Linked DNA regions of Homo sapiens: region 2 is linked to region 1. The links come from fine-mapping of genetic effects on gene expression. A gene starts in region 1. The other region holds a variant in brackets. All regions are shown on one strand. Distances are from middle to middle.

Region 1 (12,852 bases):
AAGAGACTAGTGGCATTTTGCCTTTGCCCTAGAGATTTGTGGAACTTTGAACTTGAGAGAGATGATTTACAGTATCTAGTGGAAGAAATTTCTAAGCAGCGAGGCATTCAAAAGGTGACTTGGGTGCTGTTAAAAGCATTCAATTTTAAAAGGGAAACAGAGCATAAAAGTTCAGAAAATTTGCAGCCTGATGATGCAGTAGAAAAGAAAAACCTATTTTTTGAGGAGAAATTCAAGCTGGCCACAGAAATTTGCATAGGAAGCAAGGAGCCTAATGTTAATCCCCAAGACCATGGGGAAAATGTCTCCAGGCCATGTTGGAGACTTTCATGGCATCCTTCCATCACAGGCCTAGAGGCCCAGGAGGAAAAAGTGGTTTTGTGGGCTGGCCCCAGAGTCCCCATGCTGTGTGCAGCCTAGGGACTTGGTGTCCTGTGTCCCAGCTGCTCCGGCCATGGCTGAAAGGGGCCAGTGTAGAGCTTGGGCTGTGGCTTCAGAGGGTGGAAACCCTAAGCCTTAGCAGCTTCCATGTGGTGTTGAGCCTGCAGGTGCACAGAAGTCAAGAATTGAGGTTTGGCAACCTCTGCCTAGATTTCCGAAGATGTATGGAAACACCTGGGTGCCCAGGCAAAAGTCTGCTGCAGGGGTGGGGCCCTCATGGAGAACCCCTGCTAGGGCAGTGTGGAAGGGAAAGGTGGGGCAAGAGCCCCCACACAGAGTCCCTACTGGGGTACTGACTATTGGAGCTATGAGAAGAGGGCCACCATCCTCCAGACCCCAGAATGTTAGGTCCACCAACAGCTTGCACTGTGCACCTGGAGAAGCTGCAGACATTCAATGCTAGCCCATGAAAGCAGCCAGGAGGGAGGCTATAACCTGCACAGCCACAGGGGTGGAGCTGCCGAAGACCATGACCTGGAGGTGAGACCTGGCATCAAAGGAGATCATTTTGGAGCTTTAAAATTTGACTGCCCCAGTGGATTTCAGACTTGCATGGGCCCTGTAACCCCTTTGTTTTGGCCAATTTCTTCCATTTGGAATGGCTGTATTTACCCAATACCTGAACCCCCTTTGTATCTAGGAAGTAACTAGCTTGCTTTTGATTTTACAGGCTCATAGGCATAAGGGACTTGGCTTGTTGCAGATGAGACTTTGGACTGTGGACATTTCGGTTAATGCTGAAATGAGTTAAGACTTTAGGGTACTGTTGGGAAGGCGTGATTGGTTTTTAAATGTGAGGACATGAGATTTGGAGGGGCCAGGGGCAGAATGATCTGGTTTGGCTGTGTCTCCACCCAAATCTTAACTTGAATTATATCTCCCAGAATTCCCGTGTATTGTAGGAGGGACCTGGGGGAGGTAATTGAATCATGGGGGCCAGTCTTTCCTGTGCTATTCTCGTGATGGTGAATAAGTCTCACAAGATCTAATGGGTTTATCAGGGGTTTCTGCTTTTACTTCCTCCTCATTTTTATCTTGCTTTCACCATGTAAGAAGTGCCTTTCACCTCCCGCCATGATTCTGAGGCCTCCCTAGCCATGTGGAACTGTAAGTCCAATTAAACCTCATTTTGTTCCCAGTTTTGGGTATGTACTTATCAGCAGCATGAAAACAAACTAATACAGTATCAAATAGAAATTATTTACAATTAAGTTATACACTCCATGGCAAAACTAAACTGATATCACATAATATCAAAAATAGTTAAGAAATTGTCATCTAGAAAGTTGTTAAATTACAAAATCAATATTAATTCTAATGCAACAGTTCAAACTGATAAATATTTTTTCATGGCTATAGTTTTTTCCTATGATTCACTTTTGGTGTCAGATTGTTTTCCCTGGAAAATCAATTCTAATCTAGGAAGGTAATTGCAGTATTATGGACTAATTTGAATCGTGTCAGTGAAGATGCTAATAGCCTTGATTCCAAGCAACTGGAGGACTGAAGCTTAAGGTTTGAGAAATATGATTGAAGAAAATATAATGCATATTTTAAATTGTGTAACTTACTAATAGTTTCATCTCTTTCCTGACTTTTTAATGAGTACTCACTAGGTAGATTTCTCTAGGTAAAATTTTGATAAGTGCTATATAAGAGCACTCAGAATGCTAAGGAAACATTGAAGGATGTCTTCTAAGTTATCCTGAGAGAACAGTCATTGCGTTGGAAGGCTTCTAAAATGAGGTGTCTTCCCAGGTGAATGTGTCACTTTGGTTGAAGATAACAGAAACTCAATTTGTTACTTTAAACAGAAGATTTGACAGGATAATCAGGGTTTATAGAATTGATGGAAGGCTGTAAGTCAAGGATTGAAATGGACAGGAAAAAAAAATGCTGTTCTAGAGGACCAAGAAGCAGGAGGTACCACAACTGTCTTTTGGCAGGAAAATCTGTAAGGGTGCTGCTATCATGGCCCAAGGCACAGTTATTGCTACTTTCATCTTGATATTATCTGCTAAAAATTCAAATTCTTAAACTAGAACACATACTTGGCCAAACTTCTGTCATATTCCAACACAGAGTTCTGAGAAAATATAATCTGCCGTTTTTGGCTTTTGTAGTGGATGATGAAACACCACTTCCCATTCATATTACATGAAGAATTCCCCAGGTAGCATGGAAGGGTGATTGGATTCTCCAGATCCAAAATGTTGACAAATGTCTAACATCCGAGTCTTGATCAAGAGTAAGCATTTACCTGGTGTGTGGTTATTAGGGAGCAGGGGGTGGTATGCGTTTGTGTGAGTTTGTGGCAGCAGTTGAGGAGTGAGTGGGCAAGTATATTTTCAGACAGAGGAAGAGCATGCATGAGGTTATTAAGAAACGAGAGCTCATGATATGTTTAGGAAACTTAAAATATTTTTTAATTGATTACATAGCAGTGGAAAAAGTTTTAAAAATAAAGAAGACTGGGCCAGGCACGGTGGCTCACGCCTTTAATCCCAGCACTTTGGGATGCCAAGGTGGGTGGATTACCTGAGGTCAGGAGTTCGAGATCAGCCTGGCCAACATGGTGAAACCCTGTCTCTACCAAAAATACAAAAATTACCCAGGCGTGGTGGCAGGCGCCTGTAATCCCAGGTACTCGGGAGGCTGAGGCAGGAGAATCGCTTGAACCCAGGAGGTGGAGGTTGCAATGAGCTGAGATCGCTCCATTGCACTCCAGCCTGGGGGACAAAAGCGAGACTTCATCTCAAAAAATAATAATAAAATAAAATAAAAAAGACTGGTAAAAAAAAAAAAAGCAGAAAAAAACTGGGCAAGTAGGCAATGATATAGTTTCTGAAAGCATAATTGTGCCATACTAAGGGGTTAGGATGGTTTTGACATGCTTATTTTCCTAATTGCTAATTAATGGCCATTTTAGGATTATATATATATAGGTATATATATAATAATTTGAAAAAATTAGATTTGTCTTGTCAAAACTTCAATGTAGATGACTAATTAAAGGGAGAAAGGGGAGGTATGACTTTATTAGATTTATTTTTCTTACATAAATTTTCTAAATATTCTTGTCATTTTTTAAAATCATTGTGGGTCTCCTATTAGCTTAATATTATTGTGACTCTAAGGTTATACCAATATTATCTTAAAATTATTTAAAATTATTTCCTGTTTTAAGCTTCATTCCTCTGAGATTTATTGTTGCTATGGTATGAGATAGTAGTTCAGATTTATTTTCTTTCAAATTGTGCTCAGCCTCTGTACAGTTTTTCCCCACTGAGTTAAAATGGCAAATTTATCATATATAAATTTTATGCTTTTTCTGTAATCTTTCATTCTACTGATATATATATAAATAAAATCAGTAGATACATATATAAAATCAGTAGATATATTTAGAATAAGTAGATATGTGTAATATATATATATATGTATTTGTGAATTCTTCCTTATATAAACTTGTTCTGTTGTCTTCACTGTAGAATCGATGGGGTGACTTTTTTTCTCTAAACATGCTATAGTTTCAACTGATTCTTATATTATGGAGAAGAATTTTTTATTCGGCCTTCCTTTTATTCCTTTTTAATTCAATCTTCATTTGATTATGAATAACCTGGTTAACAGTTTGTATTTTTTTATGCTTTTAACACTTTTCTAGATCTCTTGAAATTAAAACAAGCAAGCCCCCAGGCTATTATTAAATACCACAGTCTTTTCATTTTTATTTTATCTGGATTATGGTAAGCACTGTTGATATTCTAGGATTTGTTCTCTCACATATGTAGTTTATAGTCTTTGTCAATTTCACTTTTCATTATTACCTTTAACTTACTGATCTTCTAGGAGTGATACGTCAGAGAAGCCTGAGATCACATATTGTAATTTCTGTTTTAAACATAAAAATGCACTCAAAAAACAAAAAAACTTAATTCCGAATCGAAGTAGTTCAAGTTAAATTTTCTTTCAAAGTTCTAATTTTTAAAGGCAGGTCATTTCACAGGACAATCCCTGTATATTACGTTTTAGTATTTTTTTTTTCTTTAGATGGAATCTCGCTCTGTTTCCCAGGCTGGGGTGCAGTGGCATGATCTCGGCTCACTGCAACCTCCATCTCCTGGGTTCAAGCAATTCTCCTGCCTCAGCCTCCTGAGTAGCTGGGATTATAGGTGGGTGCCACCACGCCTGGCTAACTTTTGTATTTTTAGTAGAGACGGGTTTCACCATGTTAGCCAGGATGGTCTCGAACTCCTGACCTCGTGATCCGCCCACCTTGGCCTCCCAAAGTGCTGGGATAACAGGCATGAGCCACTGCGCCCGGCCTACGTATGAATTTAATCATAAATGCCCTTCCCCATTCTTCCATATAGTATTTTACACTGGTGAACCTTTGTAAAATATATACAGTTGCTCGTTAGTAGACATAGGAATTCTACAAGGATTTTTAAAGGACTTATATTAGATAATTCTATTGCATACTACCTTTAAAAAGAGGCGTTCTTTTGTGTTTAAATTCGCCCTCTGGTGTTTAGTACATAGCAGAACATTCTAGGTGCTTTGTTTACTCACTGACGGGTGCTGAGGACACTGACTGCTCCAAATTTTCTATGTAAAAGGAACTTACGAACGGCAATTTAATTTAAAGACATAGCTACTTTTGGTATGATAGGCGTGCTGGTTTGTTTTGGGGAAGCAGCATTAAGACACTGAGGAGACATTAAAGCACTGTGAAGCCGCTTCTTGCCGTGGCTTCTTGCAGGATATGCAAGTATGTACAATATTCGAAACAAATCATTACTATGTTCTTTAAAAACGAATAAAGGTCTTTCACACAACATTGCATTTATTCTTTAGAAATTGAACACAAATGTGGTGGAGACGGGACAGGGCAGGTGGAAATTCACTTATAAGTCCTGATTGGCTAAGCCCTGGTCACGAGACCGTAAAAGAGCAACGTCTGTCTCAGAGCGACTCCCACAGCGTCCTTAGCAACCAGCCTTGGTTCCCAGCGGCTCAGAGCGCAGCGGTGAGTGATTAAGAGGTCCTGCTTCAGATGATTTGGGAGCTCAGGTTATTGTCATATTCACCATCCTAGGGCAACTGAAAGACCCACAAAGATCCTCACAGGGGAATACTGAGCCTCCTTTCTCAGGGTGCCATAGCTTTGTTAGAAGAAACACTACTCGCAACCCCAGGCTGGGCCTGCTATCTGGGCCCCTCCTAAGAGTCTAAGCAGTCCATCCTGGAAAAGCCACCAGGTCGTTTGATAGGGGAAGCTTTTTTGTTGGGGAGAATAAAGGAGGTGGGAACTTTCTTATTGCTATGAATAGGGAAATTCATTTAATCTCCCCTGGACTCGCTTATCCTGGGGCAACCTTGAATTCAGAAGACCAGTCTTCACACATCCTCTGTGGTTGGTGAAATTGCACCTTTTTGATTTTTATTTATTTATTATTTATTTAGTATGAAGACTCTTGGACTTCAAAAGAGAAGGTTCAAAAATTTGGCGCTCTGTGTGTGTGTGTGTGTGTGTGTGTGTGTGTGAAAGAGAGAGGGGGGTATATTGGAGATGTGTAATAAAACAATTTTTAAAAGCCGTTAATCTTGAGAAAAATATCCAAGTTGTCTATTAGAAAAATTTCTAGGAGGGGATAAGACTGTAGTAAGAGTCTCTTATTTACCTTACCATCTTAACAGTATGTCTGAACAAATTCTATCATTTGGTTGGTCAAATAATTTGCTTCCTCAGGTTAGAGTCTAAATCTTATATTCTCTAATGCATGTTACCTTTCCAAAGTCTTGATATAATTTTAATATTATCTGTTTTTCAGAAATTGTCTTTTAAAGTATACAGTTTCAACCTCATTTTTATTGGAACTTTAAAAAAATACATGAAGAATTAATAGTAAAACTAAAAAAAGAAATCTGGGTCTGTGCCAGGTTGCAGATGAACTGCCAAGCACCCAGGCAGACTGCTGGAGCCATTTCATGAGCTGAAACATTTCTCTTTAAAGTATAAACATTCTTGGTTTGGGTAATCCACATACATACTTGATTGAAGGTAGCAGATTTTTATTTCACTAAGACCTATTCTGCATGGACCCTTATGATCTTAATGAGTAGTGCTATATTCTTGCTGAACGTCTGATTCATTATCAGAATCATTCATTGTTATGATAAATTTGATAAATGTTCCTGTCTTGAAGTTCATTGTCCATCCAGAGCTCCTGGTAAAGTGTCTGCTCACAAATGCTTAACATTTTCCAAAATGTGTCCTGTATGTAGTTCTAGGAGATGATGTTCTAAAGATTTCTTTAGTCAATAAATTTTAAAGTACTACATGTCACACTGCTACTCAGAGAGATGTAGAGTATATATGAGAATATTAACACTGAGAAATCTTAGTATATGCAAACCTACTTATTTTTGTCTAATCCAGTGGTTTCTCAAACATTTCACAACAGAAAGCTTTTCGAGGTAGTTTCATCCCAAGAAGCAGTATTTTACAGAATGTATTTTAGAAATTAATGTTCTAAACTATATATCACACTTTTTATTTTTGCTTATATTTCCATAAAACCAAATGAATTCATTTCTTTAAAATGTTTCCTGCTGATTCATTACAATACCAAAGAAAACAAATCTCTTTAAAAAATATACCACCTTAGTAAATTATTTTATTCCTATTACTTTCATTGCGTTTTCAACAGTAATATAATAAATCACTTGCTAAATCTATATCGACTTTAGGATTACTAGCTTCTTACTATAACATGGCAAGTTTTTTTGTTGAAACCATATTTTTAACATTATAATATTTATTATGTAGCAGGTGCTCTATACCTATCTGGTGAATGAATAAATAAAAGATAATTGATTTCTTTTTTAGAGTTCCTTTCTGCAGAAGACTAGTCATTTAACTATTTGGTGAATGAATAAATAAAAATAGTTGATTTATCTTTTAGGATGCCTTTCTGCAGAAGGCCAGTTAAATGATCTTAACAGTAGTCCACCAGAAAAATGATGAGAACCTAATCTCATGGCAGTGGCCGTGATCTAGGATTTGATTCCTGATTGTTTTGGGAAGTTATAGAGAGCATGGAATTGAGGATAACTCTGAAATTTCTAGCTTGTCAGTTTGAGTGATTATATTAACTGAGATTTATTAAAATAATACTGGATTAAGAGCAGTGTTTAGGGACCTGAAATGAGAAAATAACAGGTTAAGTTATACACAGTTTAGATGTTTCAAGTACTCGTCTTTGAGCTGGGTGCCCAGAATTCAGTTGGAAAACAAATCTAGAGCTCAAGAGAGGTCAAGATTGGAGGCAGCTGCTTGGGAGTCATTGTTCTACAGTGTGGTTTACAGTATAGGGATGGATGGCATCAACTCCAGAGAGGTGAGAATATGAAGAGAAGGGTATTCTGGCCACAGGACTGATGTGAATATCGAAAGATATAAAGTATGTGAAAGTACTTTGCAAACAATAAAGTCCCATGCAAGAGTTATTATTATTACATCCCAGAAGGCTTACTGAAGAAATAGGTTTGAACTAGGGTTTTCAGGAAGGTGTGAGATATCCTAGGATTGTATTTGATGGAATATAACAGAAACTCGTCTCCAACAACTTGACTGTGGTTCATCTCTAATGCCATAAATGTTCCAGGCTTCTGTCTTTGTGTCCCATCATCTTTGTATGTGGTTTTCATCTTCCTGGTCATCTCTTGATAGCAAGGTGACTGCTCTATCACCATTCTTATGTCTATCATCCAGGGAGGTAAAAGAAATTGGGAAGGGACAAGGAAGAAGGTACTGTGCCTCTATCATGAAAGTAAACTTTACCAACATCCCCTACTAAGCTTTAGCTAGAACTCATAGTTGCAAAGAAAGCTTCAGGAGAAATGTTTTTTAGCCAGAGACTTTGCTGCTCCAAACAAAATTAGGGTTGCTTTAATAAAACAATGGAAGAGTGAATATTGGATAGGAAGCTAGTGGTACCAAGAGATATAGCAGTCCCTAGGAGTATAGATGATAATGTATATAGGGAGAGTTGTGTAAACAGAAGTAATGCTTTGCTAATAGCTAACAGTCTATACAGATTTTGAGATTTTCAGGATACTCATTTAGAGTCTAATTTAAACATAATGGTACCCATGGATAATAATCTCAGTAGGCCCCCAAATATAAACAACTTGTGATCAATGTACTAGCCAAGAAGTAGCCATGATTTATTATATTTGAACTCTATTACATTGATACAAAAATATAATAGATATTTTGCCAAACAGGAAAGCACACAGCCCCACCTGTCTCTTACATTTGAGGTATGTTTCTGATTGAACACATAGACTTCAGGTTATGTGTCAACTGGTCTAATGCCTTAAAGGAATTTCAATTAAAAACAATAACCACTGCCAAAACTCACAAAGGAGAAAATAGATAATCTGAATAGACCTATAACTATTAAAGAAATGGAATCAATAATTAATAGCCTTCCAAAACAGAAAGTACCAGGCCCAGATAGGTTCACTGGTGAATTTTACCAAACATTTAAGGAAGAAATTATATCAATTATCTGCAAGTTTCTTTCAGAAGATAGAAGCAGAGGAAATACTTCCTAACTCATTCTTTCAGGCCAGCATTACCCTAATGCCAAAATAAGACAAGGACATTATAAGAAAAGAAAACTACAGACCAGTCTCTCTCATGAAAATATATCCAAATAGCCTCAACAAAATATTAGAAAATTGAATTCAACAGTAAATACAAAGAATTAACTCTGTGTCTACTTCTGCTCCTGGATTTGTTCACTTCCACTAACATACAGACAGATACACAAACAAGCATATAAAAAGTACTATGGCTGTGGTAGCCAGCCTCTAAGATGCTCCCAATAATCTTTGCCTCTTGACATTCACACCCTTTTGTAGCTCCTACTCACATTGAATCATGGCCCTTCTGTATGACCAATAAAATGTGGTGGCAGTAAAGTAATGATACAGGCTTTGCAAGGCTAGGTATAAAGGCATTTAAGCTTTCATCTTGGTTTCTTGGATTGTTCTCTCTGGGGGAAGCCAGCCTCCATGAGAGCACACAGGAAGCTCTGAGGAGACGTCCACATGAAGAGGAACTGAGGCCTGCTACAACAGCCAGTGTTTACTTGACAGCCGTGTAGTGAACAAACCACCCTGGAAGTGGATCCTACAATCCTAGTCAACTCTTTAGAGGACAGGACTGACTGAACTTAGATGACTAGCTGACTGACTGACTGAACCTGCAGCTGCCATTTGACTGCAACTTCATGAGAAACCATGAGCCAGTTATACCCAGCCATGCCACTAACAAATTCCTAACCCAGAGGAACTGTGAGAGATAATAAATGGCAGTGAGTTTTGGAGTGATTTGTTATACAAATTAGATAATTAATACAACAGCCAAGCCTTTTGTGAGTTTATTTTTCTAAAGATATAGGGGAAAAGGTGATTTCATTGTAAGAACTTTATTTCTGCCATGTCCTTTCTTCTCTCATTCTGTCTTCCATTTCCACCCTACCACATCTCTATCTTCTGCAGCCTCCCACTTAACCTCCAACCCCTGACAATGTTTTATGTGATATCAATAAAATACTGCCCTGGAATTCAGCACTCTAATGGTTTGGCTGCTGCAGAAATAATATTTTTATGTGTTTTAAGAAGTGATTCTAACTATCAGGGGCAGTGCCACCTGCTAGGCAACATAAATGCATGGATGTGCTTCTGCTTCTCTCCCATAGCTGCTTCTTCTAAGATTCCTTTTTCTAAGCCACCCTGGGATTCTGATGAATAAATTTATATTTTTCCTTCTTGTTTAAACTATGTCTTTCTTATTCGGATGTCTAATATACAAAACAGGTAAAAATGGAGCTGCTCTGGTCAGTCTAGGGAGGCAGACGCACCCCCTCTTACTTCCCAAACACTAACACACACAGATATATATATACACACACACACACACACATGATATGCAGACTCACACATCTCACACATATGATAGCTTATGAGTCATTTCTGTGGAGCATAGCTTGAAATTCAAAATTCTAGATCAGTATTTCTCAAGGCAGGAGAGGTTGTGATACTGTTATCTTGAGAACAACAGTTCTTACTTATGAGGTACTCTCTCGGAATTGAGGAATATATTTAGCAACCCTGGACCCTGGGCACTGAATGTCCGTTATCAGAACCCTAGACATTATGACAAACAGAAGCACATCCATGCATTTCTAGATGTTACCTAGAAGGTAGTATTGCCCATGATAGAACCACTTCTTAAAAGACGCACAAAAAGCTTGTTTCTGTAGCAGCCAGACTATTAGAAAGCTGAATGCCAGGGCTACATTTTATTGGTGTCACACAAAATCTATCAATGTTTGTTGTAATGTCATATATTTATATTGAGTGTAAAAGACTGCCCCATGAAACTGTTTATTATTTTTACATTCAGGAGGTTATTCATTACATTATATCCTATCTTCTTTATGATGGCTTTAGAAAAATTGTCTTATAACTTTACCGGGAATAACTTTTTCCCCTGCAACTAGTTTGTTTTTAAGCAGTAAATTGTGGCTTTCAGCATTATTTTAAGATGAATGTATACTATACCTTTAGCAAGTGAGTATATATGAATTTGTGGCATAGATTTTGTATGTTCATCTCACTATATCTCACTTTCTTACCCTATTTTGTTCTTACCTATTTTTTCCAGTTTAAAATTTAATTTTCTCTTATATTTATTTTTAGAACTCATCTGAAAGACTTTTATAAATGACAGTGCATCAACAGTTGAGCATGTGTTAACGTGGAGTGGTATATTAATAGAAAGAAGCATAATATAGCACAAAGCACTCAGTCAAGCTTCTAGTCCAGAAAGCGTATGATTTTATCTGAAGTAATTTGGAATAAATTTACTTGAAGGCAAGGTATTCTATATGAGAAGTTAGGCCAAATGTTGATTTGGACAAAAGTGAATGTAGTAAAATGGGAAAAAAATCCTGAAGGCTGGCATCAAAATAACTCTTAAACAATGAACTATTACAGAGATTTCCACTTGAGTCATGACTCATGCCATCTTCCCCTCAAGTGCAACATAAGGTAAGCTGAACTTTGTGCAGATGTGGCCAAGATGATGGGACTCCCTCTCCCCTAAGCTTCCAATCAAGGGTTACTGTATCTTATTAGTAGGGGCAGTCTGCCAGCATTTCTAATCCCCTTCAACTCAAATTTAAAAGACTAATTTCCTGGTGATTGTGGCTGAGAGGCTGGGGGCTCCCTTACTTCACCCAGTCTTCTTCATGCATAAGAAAGAGGCTTTATATTAGGTTCAGCAAGACAAGAATATTGATACCCTAATTTCCCTCGTTGCAACTTATTATAGGGGAGAGGTTTCACAAGAGAAGAGGCAAGCCAAGAAGACTGGAAGCTACTGCTCTGCTCAGCTCCTAGAATAGTGGCTTGGAGACTGCCCAGGGGAAAAGGCAGTCTGTAAGAAAAAACTCTGAAATCCTCCCCAAAGAAACTAACTTTATTTGAAACATAAGGTTCAAGCCTAATGCTGCTCTTGAAAATAATTTCTTCTCTAAATTAAGAGCAACAAGCTGAACTTCAGGACATCTAGTTCACCAGCGAGAACCAGAACAAGGGACAAGTAAGAAGAGCCCTTAAAACTGTCTCTGCCTGAATTTAATTGGATCAGACTGCTGAGCAATTTATACTCTAGAGCATTTTTTAAAACAATAGAGTAATTAGTTGATAATTACTGGAGGCTAATGGGCTGGCATGTAACACAGAATGAGGCACACAGTTTAACAGAGAGAGTAGAGAAAAAGACAAAGAGAGCCTTGCCAAATTCACTGTCATCCCAGGGTGACGGTGTGAATGCCCAAGGCTGTACCCTCTGAAGAGTGGCATCAAAAGCTTCACAGAGTGGAACAAATATAATTTACTAAAATATCCTAGCCAAGTCACAAAATAAGCAAACAATATCAAAAACAAGCTCAGAAGAGGGAGGAAGCAAATCTGTACCCAGAATTGCTACAATATATTCCCTAAAATAACCAATTTCCAACAAAAAATTTTAAGACATCTAAAGAAGCGAGAAAGTGTGACTCATATACAGGAGGGGGAAAAAAGCTGCAAAAACTGCCTGGAAAGAGGAGCAGATGTCAGATTTATTAAAGACTTTGAAATAGCCATTACAAATACGTCCAGAGAACTAAATGAAACCATGTTTAAAGAGGTAAAGGAAGATATGAACAGAATGTCTCAAATGGAGAATGTCAGTAAAGAGAAAAGATTGAAATTTTACACACATGCATAATTATATATGTGTGTGTGTGTATATATATATACAGCACATATATATGCAGCACA
Region 2 (12,852 bases), 440 kb after region 1:
CTTAAAAAAAGTGAAGGTGTTAATCATCATCATTATTATCACAGGCTAGATTGGACTTCACTGTTGTTTTAGCTTGTATAAAAAAATTGAGAAGAAATTACCCAATAGGTGACTTTGTTTTAATCCCAAGAGCCAACCCCTATGTGTAGATAAAAAATATTTATACCCATGAGAAGTGGATATTGCCTTACATAAAACTCTAAATTGAATTCCCAATAGTGCTGTTAGTCTAGGTGCTCCTTAACCTGTAGGAGCTCAGAAATCCTTCAAACTGAAAATCTGTTTTGGCCATCCCACTGGTTGGAGTCCACTCCCAAAGCATTAAGAACAAAATGGGGAGGTTTCTTTATGTTGTTATTTTTCCCTCATTCTGAAACCAGCAATTTTTCTTGTTCTCTCTGCAACCCAGCCTCTCTAGAGAGACTGAACCCTGGTAGCTAAGTTCTCATAAAGCCTAAAATTAACTGTAATCACCTTTGTATAGTATATTATTTAAAATCCCGTAATGGCAGAATGCAAACAGGAAACCTTCTTCTCTCCTTCCCTCATAAGACCGTAGACCAAGTAAAGCTTATTCCCCATTTCCCTTTCCAATGGGGACTCTTTAATAATAAAATGAAAAGATTTCAGCCTTCCTTTGCTGCAGTAGCTCCCAGGCCTACCTAACTTAATAGCACTGTAAAGCTCTACTAGTTGCACTCCACAGATAACACATTAAAGTGTAGCTCTGGGTGAGAAATAACCTGCCATCAAAGCCTCCCAAGAAAAACACATTCATTAGACATGAAAACAACAAGAGAGAAAAGCTCGTTTTCCCTCAAAGGAAGTGTGAAGTGTTCAAGATTCTGAGATCACACTAAATCCTAGAAAGCCATGAACAACCTTGTATCTTTGATAAAGCTGCTTTGGTGTGAAGGGGTTGAGTACTTAAGGTATTATGTCACATTTAACCCAAATCGCAGGTTATGGTCTCCACTGACTGTTTCTGCTAAAGTTCCAACCCATCAGGTCCCCTGAGGAGAAATGAAAATGATGTTATCTGCTAATGATGTGACTTTCAATCCTGACAGGAGGAAATAGCTAATGCAACAAGCCTTCCTCTCACAAAAGGAAGCCATTTACATAACTCTGAGCTTCTGAAGGAAGACACAAAGTGAGATGAATGAATTTAAAATTTCCTCAACTTGCTGTCAAGAAAGGAGCTGGAAGCAAAGCCAAGGATCTCAGTTTTCATTCCTGTTTATACTTCTGGCTTATTAAAACATCCATGAGCAACCCATTCACTTTGCTTCTCTTGATTTCACGTTTATTAAATCTTAAAACACATGAGGCTCTGGTGTTCCCAAGTCATTCAATCCCTCCAAAAAGTCCATAAAGCCTGATTCTGATCATCATTAAAGCCTCTAAATAGTAAGTAGATTACTCACATATGAAACTGGTGTTTGTGGTTTAGCTAAGCTGGAACTACACTTCTCGGAGCTCCCTTCTCTGTGTGGTTCATGTTAGGATTGGCCACAGGGGACATCTGTATAGGATTAGGAGGTTTGGGTGTACCAGCAGCCGTTATTCCCAGGAGGAGCCTCTAAAGCTCTTACACACTGCTGCTGATTTCATAACCCACCTTGTTGCATTACTCAGCAGAAAATTGGGCCTGCAGCCCTTTGACTCCCACCTAATCTCCTTTCATTTATTTCCAGGCTCATATGCAGCTCTACAGCAAAAGGCCTCAGATCCTCCAGCAATATTCCCCATCATCAAGGCGAGATGTAGGGAGAGGCTAACGTGGGTTCCAGTTTGTCCTTGTGGATTCCATTTGTCCCTGCAGGTTCCTATGTCCCTGGCCTACATCCAGCTTGTCTTCCCCATTGCCTATCCTGTAACCGCAGTGATTACAGCCTGCTCCAGTAGCAGAAGCAAGAGCTTTTCTTAGACTTCTTTCCCTTTGTGGTCCCTGATTAGTTTCTCTGATCATCCAATCATCCCTTCCAGACTTATGCTTCCCCAGGTTTCTTAGAGTATTATAACACCTAATCTCTGCAATAAATCATTTATTTCATGTCTTTTATTTCCTGATCAAAACCATCTCACACTTTCATGAGTCAGGAGTTTAGGAAGAACTCAGCAGGGCATTTCTCCTGGCCTCAGTTGTTGACTGGGTCACTAGGTAGTCCCCAGCTGGTAGCTGGACTATCTTGAGAGTCGAAAGCAGCTTCTGCCATATCTGTGACACCTCGGCAGGGCATCTGAAAGCTGGGCTCTACTCGACGCCTCTACTTCGCATGTAGTCTGTTCCACAGAATATTTGAACTTGTAATAAGGAGATTTTTGGTTTCAAAAGAGCAAGAAACTGCCCAGTCATCTTAAAGACTAGCCTAGAAAGAGCATAACACCATTTCCACTGTATCTCCCTGGTCAAAGAAGTCACAAACCAACCCGGATCAAGGGGACAGGAAAGAGACCCAACCCCTCAATGGGAAGAATATCAAAGAATTTTCAACCATTTCTTATTCTACCACAAAACTAAACCGGCCTCATTGAAGTGTTAGAATTAATTTGGTTAGAATTCTGTCCTTTCCTCATATTTCCTCCTCACCACTTTCACTGCCTTTTTGCTTATTTACTTATCTACTCATTTACAGTTATTTCATGTGATACCTGGGAGGGCCAAATCCTTTCATTTGGCCTCTTCTGCTTCCCAGATGAAACTATAAGCTCTTTGGGAGCAGCACTGGTCTCTCCTATAGCTATCTTCCATTTGTCAGTGTCCCCAAATCTGTAATCTCTGGGAAGTTCAGAAATAGAAAATCTAGTCTATGGGAGGCTTAACAGTCCCAGCTGCTCAAGAACTAGAAGTGAAGTGTAGTGTAATGCTTTACATGTAGTAAATATCCCCTGGTGGCAACTGACTGAGAGAAATGAAGTCAGTAGCCTCTTTCATTCCATCAGTCTCAGGCTCCTTTTATACAAACCAAGAGTGTGGAAATAGATGGTTTTCTCCCTCATTATTTAAGTAACGTCCACCATGAACCTAAGTTTAAAAACAATGAATAAGATTTAAAAAAAGTTTGATTCTGAAATAATTCCAGTCTCATGTATAGGTTTCAAAAAATATCCCCAAGAGCTCCTGTGTACCCTTCACCCAGCTTCTGCAAATAACATTTTATGTAACTATAATAAAATGATCAAAACAAGGAAGTATATTTGACATAATGCTATTAACTAAACAATAGACCTTATTAAGATTTCACAAATTTTTACATAATCTTTCTTTTAATTAATTTAGGGTTTATGAAATATTATCACATGGATACATTCATGTAACTACCACCATAACGAGAAAATAGGACAGAAATTTCTTTACCCCACAGAAATTTCCTCCTGCTAATGCTTTATGGTCACACCCTCACCCACCTCTATCAAAGACAGCCCAGAAAACAATGGTACAATGGGAAGTGGATAATAGCAGTGAACAGGTCCATCTAGAAGAGGGAAGAATGAGAAATACGCCAGAGACATTAATCTGTGGCAATGAAGTAACTATCAGAACAAGCCTTCTGAGGTCCCTTATCTAACAGTAGAACAAGTTCTTTAATTAAATCCTGATTCTGCTATTTGGTAATGTCACAGGAAGCAAGAAGCAAACTGTATCACAGAGATTAATAGCAGGGGGTTTGCAAGAGAATGTTCTTGTGAACATCTGTGAAGAGAAGCCAAAAAAATAGGACTAAGAAGATGGAGAAGTAGGTCTGTGATACAGCCTCAGTGCAAGTTTCAGCTACCCCATGGAGAGCTCCAAACATAAAGATGGAATGTGCCTTTAGTACTATCCTGAGGTGGATTGACAAAACTGGGTCTTTTTGTCCCACAGTGAACAGTCACTAGACCTGAGAGGGCATCATGATGTTGGAGAAGGCAGCTAATACCTGTCAGAGATCAGCACACCTAGTGCTGGGGGTAGCACATTCTAGAATCAGGAATGGAGGTCCAAATGGAGCACCCCAGCGTCCCTCTCAAGACAGGCATTGTCTTTTAGATCCTGAGTTGCTGGACATGAAGCCTCTTTAAACCTAACATATGGCACAGTACAACACCCAGATATTGTAGGCTTTGAGCTGGATGGGGTAACCATTTTAGGCTTATGAGGAGGAGAGTGGTCTATATGTGGGCACAAAGTGCAACAGTATATTTGGAAGCCAGTGGGGTAGACTTTGTCAAGGACAGGTAGCTGTCCACCAGAATTGCATGTCCTCACTTCATGGATGCAGAGTTATCTCTGGAATTTGGCTTTCCAGGCCTCAACTGCATTTCTGACCCTGCCCTCATTCAGCAGTGATATGTTTTGGCTGTTTCCCCACCCAAATCTCATCTTGAATTGTAACTCTCACAATTCCTGCATGTCGTGGGAGAAACCTGGCGGGAGGTGATTGAATTATGGGAAGGCGGGTCTTTCCTGCACTGTTCTCATGATAGTGAATGAGTCTCTTGAGATTTGATGGTTTTAAAAAGGGGAGTTTGCCTGCACAAGCTCTCTTTGCCCGTTGCCATCCATGTGAGACATGACTTACTCCTCCTTGACTTCCACCATGATTGTGAGGCAACCCCAGCCATGTGGAACTGTAAGTCCATTAAACCTCTTTCTTTAATAAATTGCCCAGTCTCAGGTATGTCTTTATCAGCAGTGTGAAAATGGACTATTACAAGCAGTTAACATGGCCCAGTGTCCAAGTGCTGTCCACTGCGATAAAACAGAAGCGGTGAACACTATGTGCACCCAAGACCTATCATGCCTGAAGCAGTGTCCTCCAAACTGTTTTCCCTTAGTCAAGATGCAATGGATTCAATCCCTCAGGGCAACTTGGAAAACTATGTTTCAAAGATAACAGAATCTCACTGAGCATGAGTCCCAGGAAATGGATGAAGGAGTGCCTTTTTCCATCCTGATCACCTGCCAAATACTGTCATGTGAGCAGGAAATGAATTTGAGGCCTTATACTGCTTTGGTGTTTTTTTGTTTGAGCAGCTATCACTATCTGATCTAATACAACCCACATGCTGACATGCACACACAAATAGTTAAAAATATAAAATTAAAAAGATATTACTTATAGTAGCCACAATGATATAATATTTCTTGGTGGAAATCCAACAAAATTTACAAGTTCTTAATGGGGAAAATTATTAAAGTTTATTAGAAGACATTAGTGAAAGCCTAAATGAGAGAGATAAAGAAACAGAGAGGAGGGGCAGTGGGGAGAGAACGGAGGTTTATATCCATGTAGAGGAAGATTCAATAATGTAAAGATGTCACTTTTCCTAAAATTATGATAAAGATTAAATGCAAGCCCTATCAGTTGTCAACCAGGTATTTTATTAAACTTGACAAGTTTATTTTAAACGGACATAGAATAAAAAATGGTCCAAAATAACTGAGACACTCCAGAAAAAGAATAAGGCAGGGAAACTCTCCTTTCTAGATATCATGATTTTCAAAAAAATTATTAGGATTAAGATAACATGGTATTAGCACAGATATAGATAAAACCAGTGCACCAGAATAGAGTCCTGAAGTAGATCCACGCATATATTGAAACATGATGCATGATGAATCAGGGTGGAACGAATAGACAATATTATCAATGGAACTGGGGAAAGAATTTGTCATCCAAAATTAGATTTGACTTTAAGGGGAAAAGCAAAGCTTTTTAAAACTTTTAGGGGAGGAGCCAAGATGGCCAAATAGGAACAGCTCCAGTCTACAGCTCCCAGCATGAGCGGCGCAGAAGATGGGTGATTTCTGCATTTCCAACTAAGGTACCGAGTTCATCTAACTAGGGAGTGACAGACAGTAGGTGCAGGACAGTGGGTGCAGTGCACCGTGCACGAGCTGAAGCAGGGCCATGCATCGCCTCACTCGGGAAGTGCAAGGGGTCAGGGAATTCCCTTTACTAGTCAAAGAAAGCAGTGACAGATAGCACCTAGAAAATCGGGTCACTCCGACCCTAATACGGCACTTTTCCAACAGCCTTAAAAAATGGCACACCAGGAGATTATATCCTGCACATGGCTTGGAGGGTCCTACACCCACAGAGTCTCGCTCATTGCCAGCACAGCAGTCTGAGATCAAACTGCAAGGCAGCAGCGAGGCTGGGGGAGGGGCACCTGCCATTGCCAAGTTAGTTGTTTGATTAGGTAAACAAAGCAGCCGGGAAGCTCGAACTGGGTGGACCCCACCACAGCTCAAGGAGACCGGCCTGCCTCTGTAGGTTCCACCTCTGGGGGCAGGGCACAGACAAACAAAAACACAGCAGTAACCTCTGCAGACTTAAATGTGCCTCTCTAACAGCTTTGAAGAGAGTAGTGGTTCTCCCAGCACGCAGCTTGAGATCTGAGAACGGGCAGACTGCCTCAAGTGGATCCCTGATTCCCAAGTAGCCTAACAGGGAGGCACCCCCCAGTAGGGGCAGACTGACACCTCACACAGCTGGGTACTCCTCTGAGACAAAACTTCCAGAAGAATGATCAGACAGCAGCATCTGCAGTTCACCAATATCTGCTGTTCTGCAGCCACCACTGCTGATACCCAGGCAAACAGCATCTGGAGTGGACCTCTAGCAAACTCCAACAAACCTGCAGCTGAAAGTCCTGTCTGTTAGAAGGAAAACTAACGAACAGAAAGGACATCCACACCAAAAACCAATCTGTACGTCACCATCATCAAAGACCAAAGGTAGATAAAACCACAAAGATGGGAAAAAAACAGAGCAGAAAAACTGGTAACTCTAAAAATCAGAGCGCCTCTCCTCCTCCAAAGGAATGCAGTTTCTCACCAGCAATGGAACAAAGCTGGATGGAGAATGACTTTGACGAGTTGAGAGAAGAAGGCTTCAGAAGATCAAACTACTCCGAGCTACAGGAGGAAATTTGAACCAATGGCAAAGAAGTTAAAAGCTTTGAAAAAAAATTAGATGAATGGATAACTAGAATAACGAATGCAGAGAAGTCCTTAAAGGACCTGATGGAGCTGAAAACCAAGGCATGAGAGCTATGTGATGAATGCAGAAGCCTCAGTAGCTGATGCTATCAACTGGAAGAAAGGGTATCAGTGATGGAAGATGAAATGAATGAAATGAAGTGAGAAGAGACGTTTAGAGAAAAAAGAATAAAAAGAAATGAACAAAGCCTCCAAGAAATATGGGACTATGTGAAAAGACCAAATCTACGTCTGATTGGTGTACCTGAAAGTGACGGGGAGAATGGAATCAAGTTGGAAAACACTCTGCAGGATATTATCCAGGAGAACTTCTCCAATCTAGCAAGGCAGGTCAGCATTCAGATTCAGGAAATACAGAGAACACCACAAAGATACTCCTCGAGAAAAGCAACTCCAAGACACATAATTGTCAGATTCACCAAAGTTGAAATGAAGGAAAAAATGTTGAGGGCAGCCAGAGAGAAAGGTCGGGTTACCCACAAAGGGAAGCCCATCAGACTAACAGCGGATCTCTCGACAGAAACCCTACAAGCCAGAAGAGAGTGGGGGCCAATATTCAACATTCTTAAAGAAAAGAATTTTCAAACCAGAATTTCATATCCAGCCAAACTAAGCTTCATAAGTGAAGGAGAAATAAAATACTTTACAGACAAGCAAATGCTGAGAGATTGTCTCACCACCAGGCCTGCCCTAAAAGAGCTCCTGAAGGAAGCGCTAAACATGGAAAGGAACAACCGGTACCAGCCACAGCAAAATCATGCCAAATTGTAAAGACCACCAAGGCTAGGAAGAAACTGCATCAACTAATGAGCAAAATAACCAGCTAACATCATAATGACAGGATCAAATTCACACATAACAATATTAACTTTAAATGTAAATGGACTAAATGCTCCAATTAAAAGACACAGACTGG[C/A]AAATTGGATAAAGAGTCAAGACCCATCAGTGTGCTGTATTCAGGAAACCCATCTCATGTGCGGAGACACACATAGGCTAAACATAAAAGGATGGAGGAAGATCTACCAAGCAAATGGAAAACAAAAAAAGTCAGGGGCTGCAATCCTAGTCTCCGATAAAACAGACTTTAAACCAACAAAGATCAAAAGAGACAAAGAAGGCCATTACATAATGGTAAAGGGATCAATTCTACAAGAAGAGCTAACTATCCTAAATATATATGCACCCAATACAGGAGCACCCAGATTCATAAAGCAAGTCCTTAGTGACCTACAAAGAGACTTAGACTCCCACACAATAATAATGGGAGACTTTAACACCTCACTGTCAACATTAGACAGATCAATGAGACAGAAAGTTAACAAGGATACCCAGGAATTGAACACAGCTCTGCACCAAGGGACCTAATAGACATCTACAGAACTCTCCACCCCAAATCAACAGAATATACATTCTTTTCAGCACCACACCACACCTACTCCACAACTGACCACATAGCTGGAAGTAAAGCACTCCTCAAAATGTAAAAGAACAGAAATTATAACAAACTATCTCTCAGACCACAGTGCAATGAAACTAGAAATCAGGATTAAGAATCTCACTCAAAACCGCTCAACTACATGGAAACTGAACAACCTGCTCCTGAATGACTACTGGGTAAATAATGAAATGAAGGCAGAAATAAAGATGTTCTTTGAAGCCAACGAGAACAAAGACACAACATACCAGAATCTCTGGGACTCATTCAAAGCAGTGTGTAGAGGGAAATTTATAGCACTAAATGCCCACAAAAGAAAGCAGGAAAGATCCAAAATTGACACCCTAACATCACAATTAAAAGAGCTAGAAAAGCAAGAGCAAACACATTCAAAAGCTAGCAGAAGGCAAGAAATAACTAAGATCAGAGCAGAACTGAAGGAAATAGAGACACAAAAAACCCTTCAAAAGATTAATGAATCCAGGAACTGGTTTTTTGAAAAGATCAACAAAATTGATAGACCACTAACAAGACTAATAAAGAAAAGAGAGAAGAATCAAATAGACCCAATAAACAATGATAAAGGGGATATCACCACTGAACCCACAGAAATAAAAACTACCATCAGAGAATACTATAAACACCTCTACGCAAATAAACTAGAAAATCTAGAAGAAATGGATAAATTCCTCGACACACACATCCTCCCAAGACTAAACCAGGAAGAAGTTGAATCTCTGAATAGACCAATAACAGGGTCTGAAATTGAGGCAATAATTAATAGCTTACCAACCAAAGTCCAGGACCAGATGGATTCACAGCCGAATTCTACCAGAGGTACAAAGAGGAGCTGGTACCATTCTTTCTGAAACTATTCCAATCAACAGAAAAAGGGGGAATCCTCCCTAACTCATTTTATGAGGCCAGCATCATCCTGATACCAAAGCCGGGCAGGGCACAACAAAAAAAGAGAATTTTAGACCAATATCTTTGATGAACATCGATGCAAAAATCCTCAGTAAAATACTGGCAAATCGAATCCAGCAGCACATCAAAAAGCTTATCCACCATGATCAAGTGGGCTTCATCCCTGGAATGCAAGGCTGGTTCAACATATTCAAATCAATAAACATAATCCAGCATATAAACAGAACCAAAGACAAAAACCACATGATTATCTCAATAGATGCAGAAAAGGCCTTGACAAAATTCAACAACCCTTCATGCTAAAAACTTTCAATAAATTAGGTATTGATGGGACGTATTTCAAAAATAACAAGAGCTATCTATGACAAACCCACAGCCAATATCATACTGAATGGGCAAAAACTGGAAGCATTCCCTTTGAAAACTGGCACAAGACAGGGAGGCCCTCTCTCACCACTCCTGTTCAACATAGTGTTGGAAGTTCTGGCCAGGGAAATCAGGCAGAAGAAGGAAATAAAAGTATTCAGTTAGGAAATGAGGAAGTCAAATTGTCCCTGTTTGCAGATGACATGACTGTGTATCTAGAAAACTCCATCGTCTCAGCCCAAAATCTCCTCAAGCTGATAAGCAACTTCAGCAAAGTCTCAGGATACAAAATCAATGTGCAAATATCACAAGCATTCGTATACACCAATAACAGACAAACAGAGAGCCAAATCATGAGTGAACTCCCATTCACAATTGCTTCAAAGAGAATAACATACCTAGGAATCCAACTTACAAGGGACGTGAAGGACCTCTTCAAGGAGAACTACAAACCACTGCTCAATGAAATAAAAGGATATAAACAAATGGAAGAACATTCCATGCTCACGGATAGGAAGATCAATATCGTGAAAATGGCCATACTGCCCAAGGTAATTTATAGATTCAATGCCATCCCCATCAAGCTACCAATGACTTTCTTCACAGAATTGGAAAAAACTACTTTAAAGTTCATATGGAACCAAAAAAGAGCCCGCATTGCCAAGTGAATCCTCAGCCAAAAGAACAAAGCTGGAGGCATCACGCTACCTGACTTCAAACTATACTACAAGGCTACAGTAACCAAAACAGCAGGGTACTGGTACCAAAACAGAGATATAGATCAATGGAACAGAACAGAGCCCTCAGAAATAATGCCGCATATCTACAACTATCTGATCTTTGACAAACCTGACAAAAACAAGCAATGGGGAAAGGATTCCCTATTTAATAAATGGTGCTGGGAAAACTGGCTAGCCATATGTAGAAAGCTGAAACTGGATCCCTTCCTTACACCTTACACAAAAATTAAATCAAGATGGATTAAAGACTTACATGTTAGACCTGAAACCATAAAAACCCTAGAAGAAAACGTAGGCAATACCATTCAGGATATAGGCATGGGCAAGGACTTTGTGTCTAAAACACCAAAAACAATGGCAACAAAAGACAAAATTGACAAATGGGATCTAATTAAACTAAAGAGCTTCTGCACAGCAAAAGATACTACCATCAGAGTGAACAGGCAACCTACAAAATGGGAGAAACCTACTCATCTGACAAACGGCTAATATCCAGAATCTACAATGAACTCAGACAAATTTACAAGAAAAAAACAAACAACCCCATCAAGAAGTGGGTGAAGGATATGAACAGACACTTCTCAAAAGAAGACATTTATGCAGCCAAAAAACACATGAAAAAATGTTCATCATCACTGGCCATCAGAGAAATGCAAATCAAAACCACAATGAGATACCATCTCACACCAGTTAGAATGGTGATCATTAAAAAGTCAGGAAACAACAGGTGCTGGAGAAGATGTGGAGAAATAGGAACACTTTTACACTGTTGGTGGGACTGTAAACTAGTTCAACCATTGTGGAAGACAGTGTGGCGATTCCTCAGGGATCTAGAACTAGAAATACCATTTGACCCAGCCATCCCATTCCTGGGTATAAACCCAAAGGATTATAAATGATGCTGCTATAAAGACACATGCACATGTATGTTTGTAGCGGCACTATTCACAATAGCAAAGACTTGGAACCAACCTAAATGTCCAACAACAATAGACTGGATTAAGAAAATGTGGCACATATACACCATGGAATACTATGCAGCCATAAAAAAGGATGAGTTCATGTCCTTTGTAGGGAGATGGATGAAACTGGAAACCATCATTCTCAGCAAACTATCGCAAGGACAAAAAACCAAACACCGCATGTTCTCACTCATAGGTGGGAATTGAACAATGAGGACACATGGACACAGGAAGGGGAACATCACACTCTGGGGACTGTTGTGGGGTATGGGGAGGGGGGAGGGATAGCATTAGGAGATATACCTAATGCTAAATGAGGAGTTAATGGGTGCAGCACACCAGCATGGCACATGTATACATATGTTACTAACCTGCACATTGTGCACATGTACCCTAAAACTTAAAGTATAATAATAATAAATAAATAAATAAATAAATAAATAAATAAATAAAAGACAACTAGGAAATACACGTCATAATGTTCATGCTTCTAATAGTTAAATGCTTTCAATAGTGACAAACTTATGGGAACATCCTTAAGTGTCTGTAGGCAGAGAATGGATGAATTGTGGTATATCATACAATGATATGCCAGTCTGAAGTGAAAATAAATGTGCTGTAGCTATAGGTCTCAATATGGATGAATCTCAGACACAAAATGTTGAGTAGAAAGCAAGATTTAGAAGAATACATAAATATCTTATAGTTTACATAAATTTCAAAGCATTCTTTTTTAAATATATATTTAAATGTATTACAGCCATTCCTCAGTATCCCCAAGGTATTGGTTCCGGGACACTGCCCACCCCCCCCATACCCAAATGCACAGATACTGAAGTTCCTCTATAAATTATCTCTACATTATTTATAATGCTTCAAATACAAGGCAAATGCCATGTAAATAATTGTTATATTTTTATTCTTTCATTGTTACTTTTTATTATTTAAAAAATGTATATTTTTTATCTAGAGTTGGTTGAATTTGTAGATGCAGGACCTACAGATATAGAGGGCCAACAATAAAACCGTAACAAAAAGCGAGTCAATACTAAACCTGAAAACCAGAATAGCAGTTAGCCCCCAAGGCATCTGTGGGGGCATATAGGAAGGACACCTAACTCATTCTGGGAAGCTAAGGGTGAAAACGACCAGGAAACAATTCCTGAAGAACATGACAGCTGAGGTGAGTTTGTAAGAAATAAGATGTGTGCAAGCAAAGGTTGGGCGGGAAAAGGAGAGGAGGGAGAAGAAACGGCAAGGAGGTGAGAGAGATGTAAGAGAACATTCAGAATAGTGCTGGGAGTTACACCTGGCTGTAGTGAGAGATGAGTGCAGCAGTTTGCTGGTAAACGTTTAATGACTGAGTCTTCAGGGAGGAAAATGTGCGTACACACAATATAAATGTATATATTGACGTAATATATAAAAACA

What was found. PIP is the estimated chance that this variant, and not a neighbour inherited with it, causes the effect.
Region 2: its variant is fine-mapped to the expression of TMEM232 in thyroid (GTEx, PIP 0.96).

Annotation. Positions count from the first base shown.
Region 1 is chr5:110,719,248-110,732,099 of GRCh38, reverse strand. TMEM232 (transmembrane protein 232) reads left to right here and starts at 5,429. Exons shown (of 14, transcript NM_001039763.4): 1 at 5,429-5,473.
Region 2 is chr5:110,277,659-110,290,510 of GRCh38, reverse strand. No RefSeq gene overlaps it. Among named protein-coding and RNA genes, the nearest start is that of MIR548F3, 230 kb to the left of the region's middle. The variant C/A (reference allele first, on the strand shown) is at 7,908.